3 separate regions of the Homo sapiens genome follow, and all the other regions are linked to region 1. Evidence: fine-mapped expression QTL. A gene starts in region 1. Each other region holds a variant in brackets. All regions are shown on one strand. Distances are between the middles of the regions.

Region 1 (6,544 bases):
ATGCCCGGCTAATTTTTTTCTTTTTTCTTTTTTTTTCGGGATGGAGTCTCACTCTGTCACCTAGGCTGGAGTGCAGTGGCAGGATCTTGGCTCACTGCAACCTACGCCTCCCAAGTTCAAGCGATTCTTCTGTCTCAGCCTCCCTAGTAGCTGGGATTACAGGCGTAATCCCATCTACTGCCATCACACTCGGCTAATTTTTTTTTTTTTTTTGTATTTTAGTAGAGATGGGGTTTCACCATGTTGCCTAGGCTGGTCTCGAACTCCTGAGCTCAAGCAATCCACCTGCCTTGGCCTCCCGAAGTGCTAGGATTACAGGCGTGAACCACCGCACCCAGCCCATGCCCGGCTAATTTTTCTATTTTTACTAGAGACGGGGTTTGACCATGTTGGTCAGGCTGGTCTCGAACTCCTGACCTTGTGATCTGCCTGCCTCAGCCTCCCAAAGTGCTGGGATTACAGGCGTGTGCCACTGCGCACCCAGCCAGTGCTTTCTTTTTATTAACTTCTGTCAACTCAGTTTTTCTGTTTAACTATGAAGAATTAGAGGTAGTGAGGGGTTGAATAATTTGCCCTAGAGGACATGGCAGAGCCAGACCTGGACTTTGAGAGTTTAGCCATAAGTGATGTCTCTTGGTCTCATTCTGTATCAAGGCATGCGTAGAGTACTAAAGTAGAAAAGTAAACAACATAAAAGAAGTGCCCAATAAGTAAAAGCTATGAGCAGCTACAGAGATTTTGCCTTTTGGAGCAACCCAAGGTGAAAATATCTATTAAAATACATTAAGCTTGGTTTTTGGAAAAGTCGATAGGGGATTTTGAAACATGATAGCTGTCCATGAGGAACACTTTCTTCATATTCTCCATGTCATATTTTAGAGCTACTGACAAGAAAACTTTGCTGTGATGAAGTGCAGGGCTTAACACTTTTTTAGAGAAAACTTTGCATGAATTTTATATTATAGGTGAGAGGAAAAAAGATGTATTCAATCAAAAGTAATGGTGTCTCTAGCTTGCCAAACGATCCATTAAAGACTTCATCCAGCAAGTGTTGAGTGATGAGTATTTTATTTCCAATTCTATCTTAGTATGAAGAATATTTTATTCACCATTCTATCTCTAACACCAAGCACAGTGCCTGGCATAACAACATTTATTTGTTGAACAAATGAACACAGGTCTCTAGTTAGGTTCTGATCCTAGTGCTTCATTGAATGGCTTTGTAAATGAGACACATAATTTTTCATAGCCTTCATTTTGTCATCTGTGAAAGAGAGGGCTTTAGGTGTATTGATTTCTTAAGGATCCCTTTGGCTTGAAATTCTGATTCTAGAATCTCAAATGGAAAATTTGTGTTCACATTGCACGTGGTGTTTGGTTTTTGTTTTCAAAAGTTTGTGCATTAAATCTCAACAGCTTATTTTCTTGCAGCACAGTGAAGAGTCCCTAAGAACATATTACGTGATGGGAAATGAGAAATAACTGCACTGCAAGCCTGATGAAGGTAATTCACCTTGGGGAATAGGTGTCACCCTGAGTAACACCAGTACTGTCTCCTCAAATATGAGCCAAAAGGTGTGTCTCAGGCAGTTTTGGCAAGATTTTCTCCCTACACTCCTAGAAATTTGCAAGACAAGTTTACAGAAATTACTCCTCCCTATTTCCAAATAAAGATAATGTAATAGATCTATAGAATATTAGAATAGTCTTCTGGCCAGCAGAGGACTTGAGGGAAATAATTGGAATGCACACATTCTTTCCTTTTACGGAACAAATAAAATATACAAGGAATGTCCTTGTGGAATCCACTACACTGGGCCAGCATGATATGGCTGTAATCTTAGAGTTGTGGTTTCCAAGTTCAGCATGCTTGAGGCAATTTCTTTTTGGTATTTTGTTGGTGAACAGGATATGTGATACCATTAATTTAGCCTGTATCAAAAACTAGTTCAAGACCAACAGCTCCTTCTAGAACACAACATTTTAGGAGAATAGAGCAATGTTTCCCTAAGCAGTCGGTCATATTTCACAGAGGAGTGTTAGTTTTCTGGGGTAGTGGGTATGATTAAAAAAAAGATAGGTAGATAGGTAGGTAGGTAGATTAGATTAAATTGGATTAGATTTGATGAGATAAACAGGTTTGTGTTCAGGGGAACACGAGGTTAAGCAAGCCTAAGCAGGTTTTTTGGTTGAAGGTCTTCTCAGAACTTCTAGTATGTCAATATGCCTTGTAGATCTCTAAGTGGCAGGGACAGAGACTGGGGTACAGATTTCCCAAACATATTTGTTTAAGAAACCTGCTTTTTTCCCCCAGAATCTTTTGTGGAACTTTTGCCTCATGGAACACAATTTCAGAAATAATTTATACGTGATGACTGTGTAGAATGTTTTTCTTGTCAGGATTTTCAGTTTAGGTAAGGCCAAGGCATTTTTTTTTTACAGTACATTGAAAACTAGATATGATATCAAGAGAAAAAATTATGCTTGGCTACTTAGAATGACATACTATTTTTAATAAATTTGTATTTTGTATCATCAGTATTACTATTCAGTGTAGGGTATTTTTTATGCCCAATGCTAATGTGCTATGACTTGGTAAAATTAATTTACCCTAGGATTTACATAACCAGATTAATAAATTGTGAGTTGTAGGGAGTCTTGGAATTGCCTGAATTGACATTAAAATATTTGTTTTGAGAAATTTTTTTTTAACCTTGGTTTTACGTAACCAAGGACATACACTACATTATAAATATTGTGATGGTTTATTTTTCCAAACTTTTCTGAATGTGGGGTGCCCATTGAGTAATAATGCAAATCACCAATGACTTTGTAAAAATTGACATGATGAGTAGAACTGCAGAATTCAAAGATGATGATGATGATTTTTGAAACGATGTTTCCAGAATTGTTAAATTATGTATCAACATATGTTAACTGCAACTTCTCATGTTTAATGATGTTTACAATTAATACAATACCATACTCGCCAGTATAATACTAACAGTCATAATTAACTCAGAATAGATTCTTTGAAGTGGTTCAAAGGGCTTTTCATAATAAATAAGTAGCCTCTAATCAGCTAATATAAAGTGGGTATTTTTTAGGATGTGAGAAGTACTGGTATGTCTGATAAAACATATAATTTAGGTTGACAAAATGAGTTTGAATGATCCAGATTCACTACCCCAAGTCAGAAGGAAGTCTGACATTCCAGTGAAAGCTTTATTTAGACAGAGACAAGGAATCTTTGAGATAACAGGCTTTGGACTGTGCTATCTTGAGTGTTAGAGCTGAGTAGTTTTCCCAGAATCTCTAAGTCCTTTTTATGCTCTTTTATGAATGAATAGAATTAGTAAAAGATAAATAAATTTTTTCTTTTGGATTTCTTAACCAGTGGAAAAAATGTTGACTTTAAAAGTTCATAAAATCAAATTTTGCTTAAGAATATGTTATTTCCACTTGTGAGGCCAGCCTGGTAGACCTCTGGGATCCTTTTCTGTTCACTCACACACCACTGAGATAAGGAGTGAAGTGTGGGCTAAATAGGGCTGAGGCTTGGGCAAGGGCATTTCTGCCAGAGCACCAGAGACGTCAGCATCTCAAGGGCACTGTGGTATGGAAAAGGACGCCACATGAGTAAATTTTAAAAATATAAATATTTTAAAGGGTAAAAATGAGGGTCCCTGTATTTGAGGATATAAAAGATGAAACTGAAGAAGAAAAGATAGGGGAAGAAGAAAATGAAGAAGACCAGGTGAGTGAGAAAACACATACTCAGACCAGCGTTTGTTCCTCTAAATTGACAATGAGAAAAATGTTCTTTCTGTTCTTTTCTTTTTTTTCAAATAGGTCTTCTATAAGCCTGTTATTGAAGACTTAAGCATGGAATTGGCCAGAAAATGCACGGAACTCATTAGCGATGTAAGTGGCTGGAGTAATTTTTGTCTTATTTTGCATTGCACCTGTGGTATTATTATGTTATAGAGTCATAGAGCTGTGGGGGAAACCCTGAAATCACCTTTTAAAACACAGTCACTTTCCAGATCATGGAACAAAGTCCTGAAATTTTCAGTGATTTCCCCAAGGTCACCTATACAGAGAATTTCTGCTAGAGCAAGTCTCCTCATTCTTAATCCAGAATCCTGTCCCTTATGAGTTTTGCTGTCACGCTGGCATGAAATCATAAGGCATTGAATTGCAGTATTTATTCCATTTGAGAACCCCCAAAGATTTTAAAATGAATATAATGATGTAATTTGTCTTGGGAGGCCCTCTATCTAAATGAATAGTCATTTTTTTAACATTTTGGGGCCTTCTGAACAATCTAATGAATGGACTTGTCTTCCAGAACAGGAAAATGCATATATATATATATATATATATATATATATATATGCATATAATATTTATTTACAATTCAGGATTTGTTGATTACTGACCTGCTTGCTAAGAACCCTGATATTAGTGCAAGGATATTAGTGCAAGGGGTATTTTTGTTGTGACATTTTTTAGTAACTGGGATTGGTTGATATTACACTTTAAGGGAATCCCAGAATTATTGAATGATTGAACATATAATTTTATGTTAAATATGTAAGCTAGAATTCAAGAAGTACAAGGAAAAATGTTGCTCACCAGGGATGAGAATTTAGATGATCCTCATTAGCGGTTCTAAGAGGATTGCTGGTCCAGAGAAAGGGTAACTCCTGTAAAGTGAATATGTGCCTGTGTCTTCATTTAGAGAGATGAGCACAATACTGGTTGTTTCTGTTGTTGATAATAAGCAAAATGATCAGAATGTTTTGCACGTTTGTTTTCTAACGGAAGTCAGTCCTGGGCAGGAGGGTAGTGGTCTGGCACATCCTCCAAAGTCAACCTGCCTGGGTTGACTCCCCAGTAACCTTGGGAAGGTTATGGAACCTGGCTTGGCTCCATCCCTCAGCTGTAACATTTATAATAAGATTAAATAATGGTAATGCATATAAATGCTGAATAAACTATCTGGAACATTGTGAGTACTCCATAAATGTTAGCTGTTATTAACTACTCTGTCTGTTACTTCCTTTTACATCCATCCAATCACAATTTAGATATGACTGGCTCTTTCTGACAAACCAGAAGGCAAGCACAAAGGATGCTGGTGGAAATCATACCCTTTCCCATATACTTGACATGTGATGTAATTACCCTTTAAATTAAGTATTTCTTTGTGCTATTACTTAATAGTCATTAGCTATTGTATGTGAAAGTTCTCTGTAAATTGCAGTAATAATAAGTGACAATGACAACAACAACAACAATAACACTATTGGCAACAGTTAAGATTTAGTGACTATTGTGTGCCAGGGATTGCAGCTTGCGAGGTAGGCGCTAGGCTTTTTCTCATTTCTGAAGCGAGGAGATAGAGGCACAGAGAGGTTCAGTACCTTGCCTGGGTCACACAGTTAAGCAGAGGCAGTAATAGTTGAACACAGAGGCCTCCCTCTTTACACTGCCAAGTTATCTCTCCCTGTAGATTTCCATGAAATGTTGTTCTTCGCCTTATTATTATTATGTTACTATTATTAGTAGTAATGCTACCAACTAAAACCCTGAGTTCCTAACCTCTTCCAGCTTTGATATATTTTTATTGAAGTGCAATTATAGCTGAGCTAACTTGTGTTACATAAACCATCAGGACTAAAGTGGTAACTGTAGTTAGTAGGTGATTTGGTTGGAGTTGTTTTGGATAAGATTGTCTATCAGTGACTTTAAAACCAACATGTTGTGAGGGGTGGTGGCCTTTATCATTATGCAAAAGCTAAATCCATACATTTCACACCCACGTAGGTAAAATGAAACAGATAGGCATACTTTCTGTTTATTACAGATTTTTGTGGCATGGTAGAATGTACTACTTAAATTTAGGACATGATTATTCTGCCTTAATTTTTTTTTTTTTTTTTTTTTTTAGACAGAGTCTCGCTCTATCACCCAGGCTGGAGGGCAGTGGCACGATCTCGGCTCACTGCAAGCTCCGCCTCCTGGGTTCACGCCATTCTCCTGCCTCAGCCACCCGAGTAGCCGGGACCACAGGCGCCTGCCACTAAGCCCGGCTAATTTTTTTGTATTTTTTTTTTTTTTTTTTTAGTAGAGACGGGGTTTCACCGTGTTAGTTAGGATGGACTCGATCTCCAGACCTCGTGATCTGCCCGCCTCGGCCTCCCAAAGTGCTGGGATTACAGGCGTGAGCCACCATGCCCGGCCTATTCTGGCTTAATTTATATCTGTATACACATTCACATTTTGCTTCCGAATAGAATTCTATACTTGCTAAGATACTTATTTAATTTTTAGATTTTTTTCCTTTTTCTCTTCTTTTCTTTCTTCCTTTTTTTCCTTCCTTCCTTCTTCTTTTTTATTTTTCTGGACAGAGTCTCACTCTGTTGCCCAGGCTGGAGTTCTGTCATGTGACTGCAGCTCACTGCAGTCTCAATTTCCTGGGCTCAAGTGATTCTCCAGCCTTAGCCTTCCAAGTGGCTAGGACTACAGGTGTGTGCTA
Region 2 (6,544 bases), 320 kb before region 1:
TTGTAATGCAAAGAAAGGATAAATGCTTGAGGTGATGGATATTCCATTTACCCCATGTGATTATTACACATTGTATGCCTGTATCAAAATATTTCATGTACCCCATACATATATACACCTACTATGTACCCACAAAAATTAAAAATTAAAAAAGTAACACAAAGAAAATAGTAGTGACTTGGCAGGGTTAGAAATTTTAGAATTGGCAGCAATAAGGTATTAGTAAAAAAGTTTTTCTTTAATCATATTAACCAAAAACACCATCAGCAACAATAACACCAAAAACACAGAACAAGTAAACTGTGGATTTCACAGGAGAAAATGAGATTTGAAGAGTAAAAAAATGAAAAAAGCAAAGCAAAATACGTAATTTAAAGGAATTATTCTCTAGGATATAAAAATGGTGAGAATTAAACTGAAACCTAGTTTCAAATCATTACCCTTTTTTTTTTTTTTGGTAGAGACAGGGTCTCACTGTGTTGCCCAGGCTGGCCTCTCAACTCCTGGGCTTAAGCGATTCTCCCACCTCGGCCTCCCAAAGTGGTGGGATTACAGGTGTGAGCCACCGTGCCCAGTCCAAATCACTAAACTTTTTGAAAGCACCTCTTCATTTTGGGTATACCATAATTTCAAAATATAAACTTCAAAATGAGATAGTGGTATAAAACCTGTTGAAATGAACATGGCAGAGTTCACTGCAGCCCAATGACAGGCTCCCATTTGGTTCTCGGGGGCACCAAAGAGAACGGGCTTGCTCAGAGCCTCACTACCTCCTTCTAGGGGGTCTCATCTTTCATCACTCAACGCCATGCAGTCAGGATGGGCACCTAGGTCTCAGTGTTTATGTAAAAAGGAACAATACAAAGATGAATGAGAGAGGACAGAAGCCAGGACTTTCTTAATTTCCCTGATGTAACTTGCTAAAAAGTTTTTATTTTTAAGTGAAAAGAAATCATGCCTGTAATCCTGGCACTCTGAGAGGTCAAGGCGGGCGGATCACTTGAGGTCAGGAGTTCAAGACCAGCCTGGCCAACGTGGTGAAACCCTGTCTCTGCTAAAAATACAAACATTAGCTGGGTGTGGTGGCATGTGCTTGTAGTCCCAGCTACTCAGGAGGCTGAGGCAGGAGACTCGCTTGAGCCTGGGAGGTAGAGCTTGCAGTGAGCCGAGATCGGGCCAGTGCACTCCAGCCTGGGCAACAAAGCAAGCCTCTGTCAAAAAAAAAAGAAAGAAAGAAAGAAATCAGACATCTGTTTTTCTTGTAGAATAGGTAGGACTTGAAAGAATGCACTGAGAAGATGAAGGCTGACTTACGTGTGTCTCATTGAATGATAGTTTAGCATGCTGTGACTGCAGGGGCTTAGCTCTCATCAGAGTAGCCTCGCACATTTGTGTCAGTTATTTTTTTATTCTTTATTTTTAAATCCCCATCCCTCAGCTTTGTTAAGGTACAATTGACAAATAAAAGTTGTATATATTTACAGTGTACAACGTGATATTTTTATATATGTATACATTGTGAAATGCATGAGTCAAGCTAATTAACCTATCCATCACTTCATGTAGTTATTTTTAAATATGTTTTTTGAGGTAGAGTCTCTCCCTGTCACCCAGGCTGGAGTGCAGTGGTGTGGTTATAGCTCTCTGAAGCTTCCAACTCCTGGGCTCAAGCAATCCTCCCACCTCAGCTCCTGACTACTGGGACTCCAGGTGCATGCCACTACGCCTGGCTAATTTTTAAAATTTTTTGTAGACATGGAGTCTTGCTGTGTTACCCAGGCTGGTCTGGGACTCCTGGCTCAAGTAATCCTCCTGCCTCGGCCTCCCAAAGCGCTGGGATTACTGGCATGAGCCGCCATGCCCAACTGTATGTCTTGTTTTGAGAAGAATCTATTCAGGTCCTTTGTCCATTTTAAAATTAGGTTATTTGTTTTGTTGATATTGAATTGGTTGAGTTCCTTATATATCTTGAATATTAACTTCTTATCTGATGTATGATTTGCAGATTATTTTCTCCCATTCCATAGGTTATCTCTTCACTCTGTTGATTGTTTCCTTTGCTGTGCAGAACCTTTTTAGTTTGATGCAATCCCATTTGCCTATTTTTGCTTTTGTTGCCTCTGCTTTTGGGGTAACATCCAGAAAATCATTGTCCAGATCAATGTCATGGAGCTTTTCCCCTAAGTTTTCTTCTAGTAGCATTATAGTGTCTGATCTTACATTTAAGCCCTTAATTAATTTTGAGTTGATTTTTGTATATGGTGGGAGATAAAAGTCCAATTTCACTCTTCTGCATGTGGATATCTAGTTTCCTTAACACCATTTATTGTCAAGATTGTCCTTTCCCTATTGTATGTTCTTGGTACTTTTGTCAAAGATCAATTGATCATAATAGTGTGGATTTATCTGTGAGCTCTCTGCTCTGTTACATTGGTCTATATGTCTGTTTTTATGCCAGATGCAAGCTGTTAGAACTAATAAATGAATTCAGTAAAGTTGCAGGATACAAAATCAACATACAAAAATCACGCCGGGCATGGTGGCTCATGCCTGTAATCCCAGCACTTCGGGAGGCCAAGATGGGCGGATCACTTGAGGTCAGGAGTTCGAGACCAGCCTGGCCAACATGGTGAAATCCTGC[C/T]TCTACTAAAAATACAAAAATTAGCCAGGCATGGTGGTGGGTGCCTGTAATCCCAGCTACTTGGGAGGCTGAGGTAGGAGAATTGCTTGAACTGGGAGGTGGAGGTTGCAGTGAGCCGAGATCGTCCCATGGTACTCCAGCCTGGGCAACAAAGCAATACTCTGTCTAAACAAACAAACAAACAAAAATTAATAGCATTTGTATACACTAACAATGAACTTTCCAAAAAAAAAAAAAAACCCAAGAAAATAATCTCATTTACAATAGCACAAAAAATTGAGGAATAAATTAAACCAAGGTGAAACATCTGTACACTGGAAACTGTAAAATATTGATAAAGGTAGTTGAAGAGAACACAAATAAGTGAAAAAACATCCTATGTTCATGAATTGGCAGAATTAATATTGTCAAAATACATATACTACTCAAATCGATCTATAGATTCAATGCAATCTCTATCAAAATTCTGATAGCATTAGAAAAAAACAGTCCTAGAATTCATATGAAACCATAAAAGACCAGGAATAGTCAAAGCAGTCTTGGGCTACAGGCATCACACTACTTCATTTCAAAATGTTCCACAAAGTTATAGTAATCAAAACAGCATGCTACTGGAGTAAAAATATCAGTTGTTTTTTAAATGCCAAAATGAGCTTATTTGAGGAAAAAAATGGTAATAGAGTCTAGGAGTACAGACACATTTACATTTGCTTCAATACTCTTGAATGTCAATAGGTTGGTTTTAGCCTCCGAAATATACATTTTAGTAGCAGAAATTCTAGGCTTTAAGTCAGTCCTGACTACTTTGTAATTTATATAGCCCTCACTTATAAAAAATACATTTTTAATTTCATTTATTACTTATAATTAATACCTTTTCTCACTTTATTCCTAAACCAAATACACATCAAACACACACCCAACTCACATTTTTAGAAAGTTTTCATTTATAACAAATCAAAGGCTGATGTCTTGGCCTGACCACATGCTCCTGCAGGGGATTGGGGTATGCCATCCCAAAATATGCCACTGTGGCATGAGGATTATTTTGAGCTGAAGGCAATGAGAATCAAATAGGAAGCATTCTCTTCTCTCCTCTTTTCTGCCTAAAAGCAGGGCATAAGGTTCCGTCTGTGAAGGTTTCCCCTGTCCTGTACCAGGAAGAGGAGAGCAAATGTACCAGGAAGTTGGAGGGTCAGCAAAATGAATGTGCATAAACAGATTTTACGAAAATAACCCTTATCTCCCGTTAGCTTTCTCCATATAGTTCCTACTCACTTTGCTGCAATTTATTTTCCCTTGAAGCCCAAACCCTTTTTCCTTTGTTACAATGGCATGTGTCCCCAAGTCTGATCACTTCCTTGGGTTCTCCTTCTTTTCTGTGACCTCCCAGTGCATGTAGATATCGATAAATTGTGTATTCCATTTCTCCTGTTTAATCTGTCTTTTATCAGTTAAATGTGAAGGACCCAAGTCATGGAACTTTTGTGTTCCATGGGCAGAGGAAAAGTTTTTCCTCCTCAACACTCCTGCATTTTTTCCTCTTTTAAATAATTTATTTTACATCTATTATACCACACAGCATGTCTGATATATAACTCCTTTATAAGATAAAGCAAAGATAAAAAAATTTTATCTTATGAGAAAGAAGACACACCATCACATAGAGTCTTCAAATATCATTGCATTGTAACTTTTGTAATCTGACAGTCATGAAACTATCTGTAGAATGGTTTAAACAGGCAAATTAAAGAACACTATCAAGCAGACCTGAACTGTCCTAAATTGTTAGGTATGCATTTTGCAAACATTACTTTTATCGATGGTAACGGTGGGGCTGGGGAGTGTTGTGTCTTTTCCCACCTGCCTGGTGACGATCGCCACAGGATGTTGGGATGAGTGGCCCTTTCCAGGGCCAAGGCTCTTGCGCCTACAGATAGCAGCCCATATCTGTCCCTGTACTTGTGGCCTGGCTTGGTGATTGCCTGGGTGTCAGGATTTCTTCCGGTAGCTTTATGAAAAGTATCCATGAGGCCAAAGAATTTGTATGTGGAATATTCGTACACTAGCTCACCGACCAGGTCAGAACTCAAGACTCTCAGAGCCCCAAATGATGTCCAGCTTGTCCCTCCGCAGCAGACTGAAAGCTTGTAACAAACTTTAGCTGGCTAGTACTGTGATGGACAGGCTTGCTGTAGGTTGCACCCTTAGAGTAAGTCGCCATCTTAGCTGACTTGTTGGTTGCTGCCAGATGGAAATGCACAAATTGCAGATGAGGTTTGAATCATCTTTGTGCCAAGCCAAAATAAATGGAAAATACAGCTTTATAATAATGACTACTATTTGATGAAAATTTCATTTGTGGCAGAATTGTCACAAATACCATGAATCTTCAAGTAATACTATAGAGTAAATATTGTTAAACCCATTTGCAGGTGAGAAGACCAAGATTCCAAGCAGCGAAGTATCTTATCTAGGGTCATATAGCTAGTAACTAGCAGAGCCTGGATTTGAATCCACAGTTGTGTGGCACCCAAAGCCTACACTTTTTTTTCTCAACAGCAGATGCTATCAATGTTAAAGTTTTCAAATTATTGGAAGCCAGTCGTATTTAGAACTTGCTGGCCACCTGGCAATATTTGGGAGAGCTGTTCACCACCTTTAAATAAATAAATAGCTGCTGCTCCCCACTCCGAAACAAACCAGATAGAGTTTCCCCTGTGAGAAGCAGCTCCTTGGCAAGTCTATGCCTGTAATTTGGAGCACTGTCCCTTGTGACTTGGGCTCATGATTGTTTTGCTTTCTCTGTCTCTGGCTGTGGCTCAATTTGGAGGAAACTTCTGGATTCCTCTCCATGACCTCTTAAGTAAATTCTGTATACTTAACCTGATAACTACCCTCTCATCTGTTTTAGATTTTGGGGGGATGCCAGCTTCTCTGGGTGCTGCTGAAGAAGTCTTCCCCAACAACTGTGCGTGCAGAGGTGGACTTACCTTGAAGCTAACGACACTCACATCAGGTCCCCTCAGTGCAGAGCCCCTTCCCAGGGGTATTGTGTTCCTATGGTAGTAGTTTAGTAAAATTAGCAAAAGTATGATTTTTTTTTTTCTTCGAGACTGAGTCTTGCTCTGTCTCCCAGGCTGGAGTGCAGTGGCGCGATCTTGGCTCACTGCAACCTCCACCTTCTGGGTTCAAGCGATTCTCCTGCCTCAGCCTCCCAAGTAGCTGGGATTACAGGCACGTGCCACCACACCCGGCTAATTTTTGTATATTTAGTAGTGATGGGTTTTCGTGTTTCTTTTCTTTTTTCTTTTTCTTTTTTTTTTTTCGAGATGGAGTCTTGCTTTGTTGCCCAGCCTAGAGTGCAGTGGTGCGATCTCGGCTCACCACAACCTCCATCTCCTGGGTTCAAGCAATTCTTCTGCCTCAGCCTCCCAAGAAGCTGGGTCTACAGGTGTGTGCCACCATGCCCAGCTAATTTTTGTGTCTTTAGTAGAGACAGGGTTTCACTGTGTTGGCCAGGCTGGTATCGAACTCCTGACCTCATGATCCGCCTACCTTGCCCTCCCAAAGTGCTAGGATTACAGGCTTGAACCACTGCGCCTGGCCCAAGAGATGGGTTTTCATCATGTTGGCCAGGCTGGTCTTGAACTCCGGACCTCGTGATCTTCCCGCCTGGGCCTCCCAAAGTGCTGGGATTACAGGCATGAGATACTGCACCCGGCCAAAAAGTGTGATCTTTTAATTGCAGCTGGTTAGGACCACTGTGTCTTCCCCTTTTGACTTCTCCTTGTCTTAATTCTCCTTGAGTTGGGTGGCATTGAAGTAGCCACAGGCACTTGGATATGTGGCTAAGGGGAAGTCAGGTTGGGGGTGTATATTTAGTGAGAGTTTAGTGGGATG
Region 3 (6,544 bases), 310 kb before region 1:
GTCATAATATTTTACAGTGTTTCCAAAGAACCTAGAGGGCATGCATGAAACAATAGGTGCAACCCAGCTAAAATTAACTCCTACTGGCTAGGATAGCTGTAAATGTAAAGCTACAGGTTTTTTAAAGACTTACAGTAGCTCATACATAGCGTGTACATTTATAAGCATTATTGAGTTGGAAGATAATGACAGTCACATGTTGAGAATAGAATATGATATCTTAACGTATGTTCCTCCTCTCTGTGAGTCTCAGGAGTCCAATTATTGAAACTTAAAAATGCAGCACTTTAGTGCATGACTCCAGAACCAGTGGGAATAAGTAACAACAAAAATTTTAATCTATTTACAGGCCTTACAAGATACATAGAATGATATGGAAAAAACATACTTGACACAAACATTTAATTGTATGATTTTGCTTTGAATTTTTGTTTGTAAAAATATACATATTCCTCCTTAAAAATGGCAGCAATGTTATATTGCCTAATGTTAATTTTCTTTCTGCATATTTGTATAATGAGATAAATGTCAAATCTGTTAGAAGTATATGTATTGGACTGGAGAGTTTGGTTTTCTTAGTTAGGATGTTTTTCTTTCTTTCTTTTTTTTGAGACAGAATTTTGCTTGTCACCCAGGCTGGAGTGCAGTGGTGCAGTCTCGGCTTACTGCAACTTCCGTCTCTCAGGTTCAAGTGATTCACCTGCCTCAGCCTCACTAGTAGCTGGGATTACAGGCGCCTGCCACCACACCCAGCTAAGTTTTTTGTATTTTTGGTAGAGACAGGGTTTCACCATGTTGTCCAGGCTGGTCTCAAATTCCTGACCTCAGGTGATCTGCCTGTCTTGGCCTCCCAAAGTGCTGGGATTAGAGGTGTGAGCCACCATGCCCTGCCCATGATGTTTTTCCTACAAGGAACAGAAACCTTGCTTCAAATGATCTTAAACAATAAGGACATTTTGAGGCTCGTGGAACTGGAGGTATTGAGCAATTGGGGCTTTAGGGTCAGCTTAACCAAATGGGTCTGGTTTTGGGGAAATTCTATCAGCTGTATCCTCTTTTTGGTCTTGGTTTAATTCTAAGGTCCCTCATCCTGACAAGCGTGACACCAGTTCCTGGCTCCACAAGGATAATCGTGGAGTGCAAGGAAAGACAGTGTCAGCCTGGATAGCCTTCCCCAGCAGGGCAACAATCCCTTCTGGACCCAGGCACTGATTATCTTTCTGTTTCTCCATCTTTGACGTGTAGGCCTCTGTTCTCATGTTTGTTACCTCGTGATCTCAAGATGGCTCCTGGTCCTCCAGGAGTCACAACTGTGGTAAAAAAAAGAAAAAAAAAAAAAAGAAAAAAAAAAAAGGTCAGGTGCCTAATTGTATCAGGAGATAGGAGAAACTTCCTGGAAGACACATCCTGCAGACTTCTGCTTATGTGCTATTGGCACGTATTGGGTCCTGTGGTCACTGGGACATATACTTCCAGCTGCCTACCTGAAGTCCATTTTCCTCTCTTTCTTTTCAACAGAATCTTGACTTTTTTCAGAGGGGCAATGTATCCATGAAAAAATACACATCTCCCGAGGCTAGACTTTCCAGATTTAGCAAAAACAAACAAAAAACAGGATACCCAGCATGGGACATACATACTTATACTAAAAATTATTTGTTGTTTATCTGAAATTCAAATTTAACCGAACGTCCTGTGTTTTATCTGGCAACCCTTCCCTAGGTTTTCTTAAGGCAGTGTAGTCATGAAAGAGACCATCCTATGAGAGGGGGGCTTCCAGAAAAGTCTTTTTAAAAAGCGACTAAACTTGTCAGACACATTCCTTTTGTCATTTGCACTTTGCCCTTTCACCTTTCCCCTGCCTGGAATTTGGGCAGAATACCTGGCACCATCTTGCAACTGGGAGACAGAATTCATACTTTAAGGATTGCAGAGAAAGAAGGGAGGAGAAGCCGGATTCCTTAAACATCTCTGAGTTACCTACTCCCAGATTCCTTGCTGTATAAAAACAAACAAAGGGCACCCTTATTTGGCCGAGTCACCATAGTTCAGTTCCTATCACATGCTACCAGGAGCAGTCTTGACTTATCTAGCTACTCCTTGCTGGAAGGGTGAGGTGCAGACTGGCTGGTTGTTTACCAAACTGTTCTGTTTTCTTTTTCCCTGCCATGCTGTTGGACTACGTTTTCCCAGGCCCCTGCAGTTAAGTGGGGTTGTAGGGCTGAGTTCCAGCCCATGGAATGTGGGTGGAAGGAATGTATGTGACTTCCAGGCCTGCTCCTTGCTCGTGCTCTCCCCACCTGCAGCAAGAACAGGGGCCATAGGGAATAGTGGAGACATTGGAAGAAAGCAGCCTGGGTTCATGGTGACTTCTGGAAGTAGATCCCTCTCATTTCATGCTGACCCTCACTGTTCTGTAACATGAGCAAGAAATAAACTTCCCTTGTGTCAGCCACTGAAACTGTCCCTATAAACTTTATAAAATTAATTAGAGAAGGAGGGAGGGAGAGAAACAAAAATAAACCAAGTTTTAGCATATTCAGCATTAATCATGAGGTCAGCCTGCTGTCTGACCTCTTCCTTGTAGTTGTTCAGTACCTATTGCCTCAGAATTGCTAGAACCTGTTACAAGATTATAGTTCCCTTAACTGCCCTAAAGACAACAACTTGCACATTATGAGACATTAATTTTTCCTTTTGAGATACTCTTTCAGGTCCTGCATACTAGTGAAACTAGACGTTAGCTGGTCTGAAGGACCCCCATGAGCTGAGTCATCAAAGAATGCAATTTCTATGTCCTGATGATTTCATCCATCTTACCTTGACCAATCAATGACCCCAATTTCCTAGCCCTTTATCCTCCACAATCTTCTTAAAAACCCCAGCCTAGAACTCCTCAGGGAAATGGATTTGAGGTTTTCCTCTCATATCCTCACTTGGCACCCTGTGATCATTAAACTCTTTCTCTGCTGCAAACTCTGCTGTCTCAGTGTAGTTGGTTTGTTACTGTGCAGTGGACATATGAACCTGTTGGTCCTGTGACACCACTGAGACGCTGGATTCTTTGGGATCAACTAATTCAACAGTATCTGTCATAAGAGAGACTGCTTCGGGCC[T/G]ACGTTCCAAGTTAAGAATCCTGAGATTCACCCCATTGGACCCTGTATCTTCTGTCCACTTTTTAAATGAATGGTTTCTAGAACCTAGAGACAGATGTTCCATAGGTATAGCTAGTCTGTGGGTAGAGGGCTGCTTTTCCAGTGCTAGGACCTTAGGCTGAGAGATGCAACCAGTCTGTAAGGAGGGAGCCAGGGAAAGAACTACCCTGGATTTACCCTTCCCCTGCTCCATGATCTCCTGCAGGGGCTCCCATTGGCCAAACCCAACCAGAAGCTCAAGGTCATGAGAGCCCATGATGTAGTCCAGCAGGGTCAGGCTTCTAGGGCAAAGTAGGGTGGAGAAAGGAGGGGACAACAGGCTGTGTGTGTGTGCACAGTCAATACAAAAACCAAATCTGGGTTTTGTTAGGATGTTGGAAAGGGGACAATGATGCCATCTTTATAGAGTTAATAAGAATTCTGGGCAGAAATATTGTTATAATTAAGCATTAATCAGGCTGTACTTTGACTCACTTCCTTATGACTGAAAGTCACATAGTACTAGATATAGACCATTCACATCCCCATCATTCCTATAGATAGGATGTCTGACATTAGAATTATATGGCTTTTGGCTGGGCGTGGTGGCTTACGTCTGTAATCCCAGCACTTTGGGAGGCCAAGGCAGGTGAATCACCTGAGGTCAGAAGTTTGAGACCAGCATGGCCAACATGGTGAAACCCCATCTCTACTACAAATACAAAAATTAGCCAGGCGTGGTAGTGGGTGTGTGTAATCCCAGCTACTGAGGAGGCTGAGGCAGAAGAATTAGTTGAACCTGGGAGGCAGAGGTTGCAGTAAGCCGAGCCTGCACCACTGCACTCTAGCCTGGGCTATAGAGCAAGACTCTGTCTAAAAAAAAAAAAAAAAAAAAAAAAGAAAGAAAAAGAAAATGATAATATGGCTTTTGCTTAAGATAGGATCCCCAACATTGGAATTGTAAGGCTTTTATTTAAGAATTACTTAGTTATGTTTTTTTCTGGTCCTGAATTCCAGTGAAACAGCTGATGACAACCAGCTGGAAAATCCCCACAGAGGAATGGGATTGGCGTGGGAATACAGCTTCTTCATCTCCCTGTCCCACGACTTCTTCTGGCACTCTTCTACCAGTCAACGATCTCTATACTTCAGCCCACTCCCAAACTCTCGAAAACCCTAGCCTCAAACTCCTTGGTGAGATAGATTTGAGGTTCCTCCTGTCTCCTCATTCAGTGGCCCTACTACAAAACTTTTTCTCTGCTGCAACCCAGTGTCTAGGTATGTTGACTTCCCATAAGCAATGGGCAGGCAATGAACCTATTACAGTTACAGTAAGGGAGGGTGAGGAGCAATCCACAGTTTCTACCCCCCTGGTTAGATCTCAGCCCCTGGGGGCTAAATTCATGGCTACAACTTATTTTTGAGATAAAAATATTTTGGCCATGTGACAAGCATGTAAAAGGAACGACTTCTGAATTTTCACTAGCACATGTTAAATTCCAAGTTCTGTAAGATGTTGAGTAACTTATTTATCAAAGCATTAGAGTTGCCAGGACAAAATAACTTATTTTAGTAGTATTCAATGTATACATTTGCTTTAATTCTTCTGCCAGAGCTCCTTACTTAATTCTGTCTCCTTAGGATTTAAAAGTGTTCCTGCTAACAGCGATTAGGATATTAGCAAGATGCATTGCGTTACTAATATTTTATATAATCCAATGATCATTTTATTGGCCAGGACTTTTTGGTCTCTTGTAATTGGTTTTATTCCAGAACATCCTGATGAAGCTGATGCTGAAGACAATCTTAGGTTTGTACTTTTAGTACTGAGTGAATTCCCATATTAATTGGCACCTGATGACTAATGGTTCATGCATAATCTTAACGATATTTTTGTGCCTGCTGATACTAATCATAGCAGTCCTACTGATGCATTGTGAAATTATATGCTAAATTGTTTTGGAGATTATCATATATCTTATTCTATGGAGGCTTTCCTTAGCTGCATGTTTATGAAATTTTTAGTGACAATCACACTTTCCTACCTATCCCTGTGAATGAGGTAGAATAGGTATTATTATTATTATGTAAAAATTTGGTTAGTATCTAATACTTATTATAGAGCAATCATAAATATACCTAAATATAAGGTGAAAATAAAAATCACCTTTGTTCTACTACCCAAATTTAGCTTTGATTAATAGGTTGGTGCCAAAGTAATTGTGTTTTTTTCCATAATATATTGGTATATATTCTTTCAGAATTTTGTCCAAGATGTAATAAGTTTTCTTCTTACAAAAATGGGATCTATATTGTTCTGTAATTTGTTTTTTTGCTTACATCATGAGTATTTTTTCATATTAAAAATATACTTCTGCAATGTCACTTTTAATAGCTGCAAAGTATTCCACTAAAGATACACTGTAATTTGTTTAAATATTCTCTTGATTTTGGACATTTGATTTCTTATTTTTGACATTATATACATTGCCCTAAATATCATTATGTGTTCATCACAATACACATTCATTCAGCTCTTGTCCAATTATTTTAGGACAAATTAGCTAGAAATAGAACTGCTGGACTACATGGTAAACAAAATGTTAAGGCTTTTGCTACACATTTGGGGCAGATATTGTAATCTTACTTTGTAAATAGTATCCCTTCAGGGTCATGTACCAATTTGCCTTGTTTCAGTCATGAATTAGACACCTTTATTGTTGTAATATTGGGTTGGAAGATGCAGATAACACTGATAAATTCTTGTTTTCATGCCTAGATGCAACTTGGAGTGCACAGTGAGCATTCTTAGTTGCAAACAACAGAAATGGACTCTGACTGATTGAAGCAGGAAAGTAGTTTATGAAATAGTAGCTCTTTGAATCCTTGGAGGGCAGGACCCTGGTGCAAGGCTAGGCAGCCAGGAAAAGGGATGAAAATGATGCAGCAGAAAAAAACCACGTCTGCTGCCCCAGAATGCTAAATGTCATGGTTTCATGACGGGGAGTGCAGCAGGCTCTGTCAATGCCCCACCTGCAGTTGCTTGGCACCCACCACTCCTTCCTCAGTCACCTGTGATTCTGAAAGTACCTGTGATTCTCTCCTGAGGGCTGCCTCTGACAATGCTCTGCCCACCCCAGGCAGGGCAGGCTGGGTGTCATGGAGTGATGATGCCCTCAGGACAAAAGAGAATCACAGGATGTATTCCTCTGCTAGGGCTTCCTTAACAGAATCCCACAGCCTGGAAGCCTTAAACGATAGAAATCCATTTTCTCACAGTTCTGGAGGCGGGAAGTCCAACATCAAAGTTCTGGCCCGTATAGTTTCTGGTGAGGGCTCTTTTCCTGGCTTGCAGACAGCTGCCTTCTTGCTGTATCTTTATATGGTCTGTCATCATGTGCGCATGGAAA

The links.
Region 2: its variant is fine-mapped to the expression of NEBL in whole blood (TOPMed, PIP 0.98).
Region 3: its variant is fine-mapped to the expression of NEBL in whole blood (INTERVAL, PIP above 0.99).

The regions. Positions count from the first base shown.
Region 1 is chr10:20,894,338-20,900,881 of GRCh38, reverse strand. It overlaps NEBL (nebulette), which reads left to right and starts at 3,571. Exons shown (of 28, transcript NM_006393.3): 1 at 3,571-3,757; 2 at 3,853-3,924. The coding sequence starts at 3,677.
Region 2 is chr10:21,216,197-21,222,740 of GRCh38, reverse strand. It overlaps a transcript of NEBL not described here. Among named protein-coding and RNA genes, the nearest start is that of NEBL-AS1, 45 kb to the right of the region's middle. The variant C/T (reference allele first, on the strand shown) is at 2,642.
Region 3 is chr10:21,204,458-21,211,001 of GRCh38, reverse strand. It overlaps a transcript of NEBL not described here. Among named protein-coding and RNA genes, the nearest start is that of NEBL-AS1, 34 kb to the right of the region's middle. The variant T/G (reference allele first, on the strand shown) is at 3,117.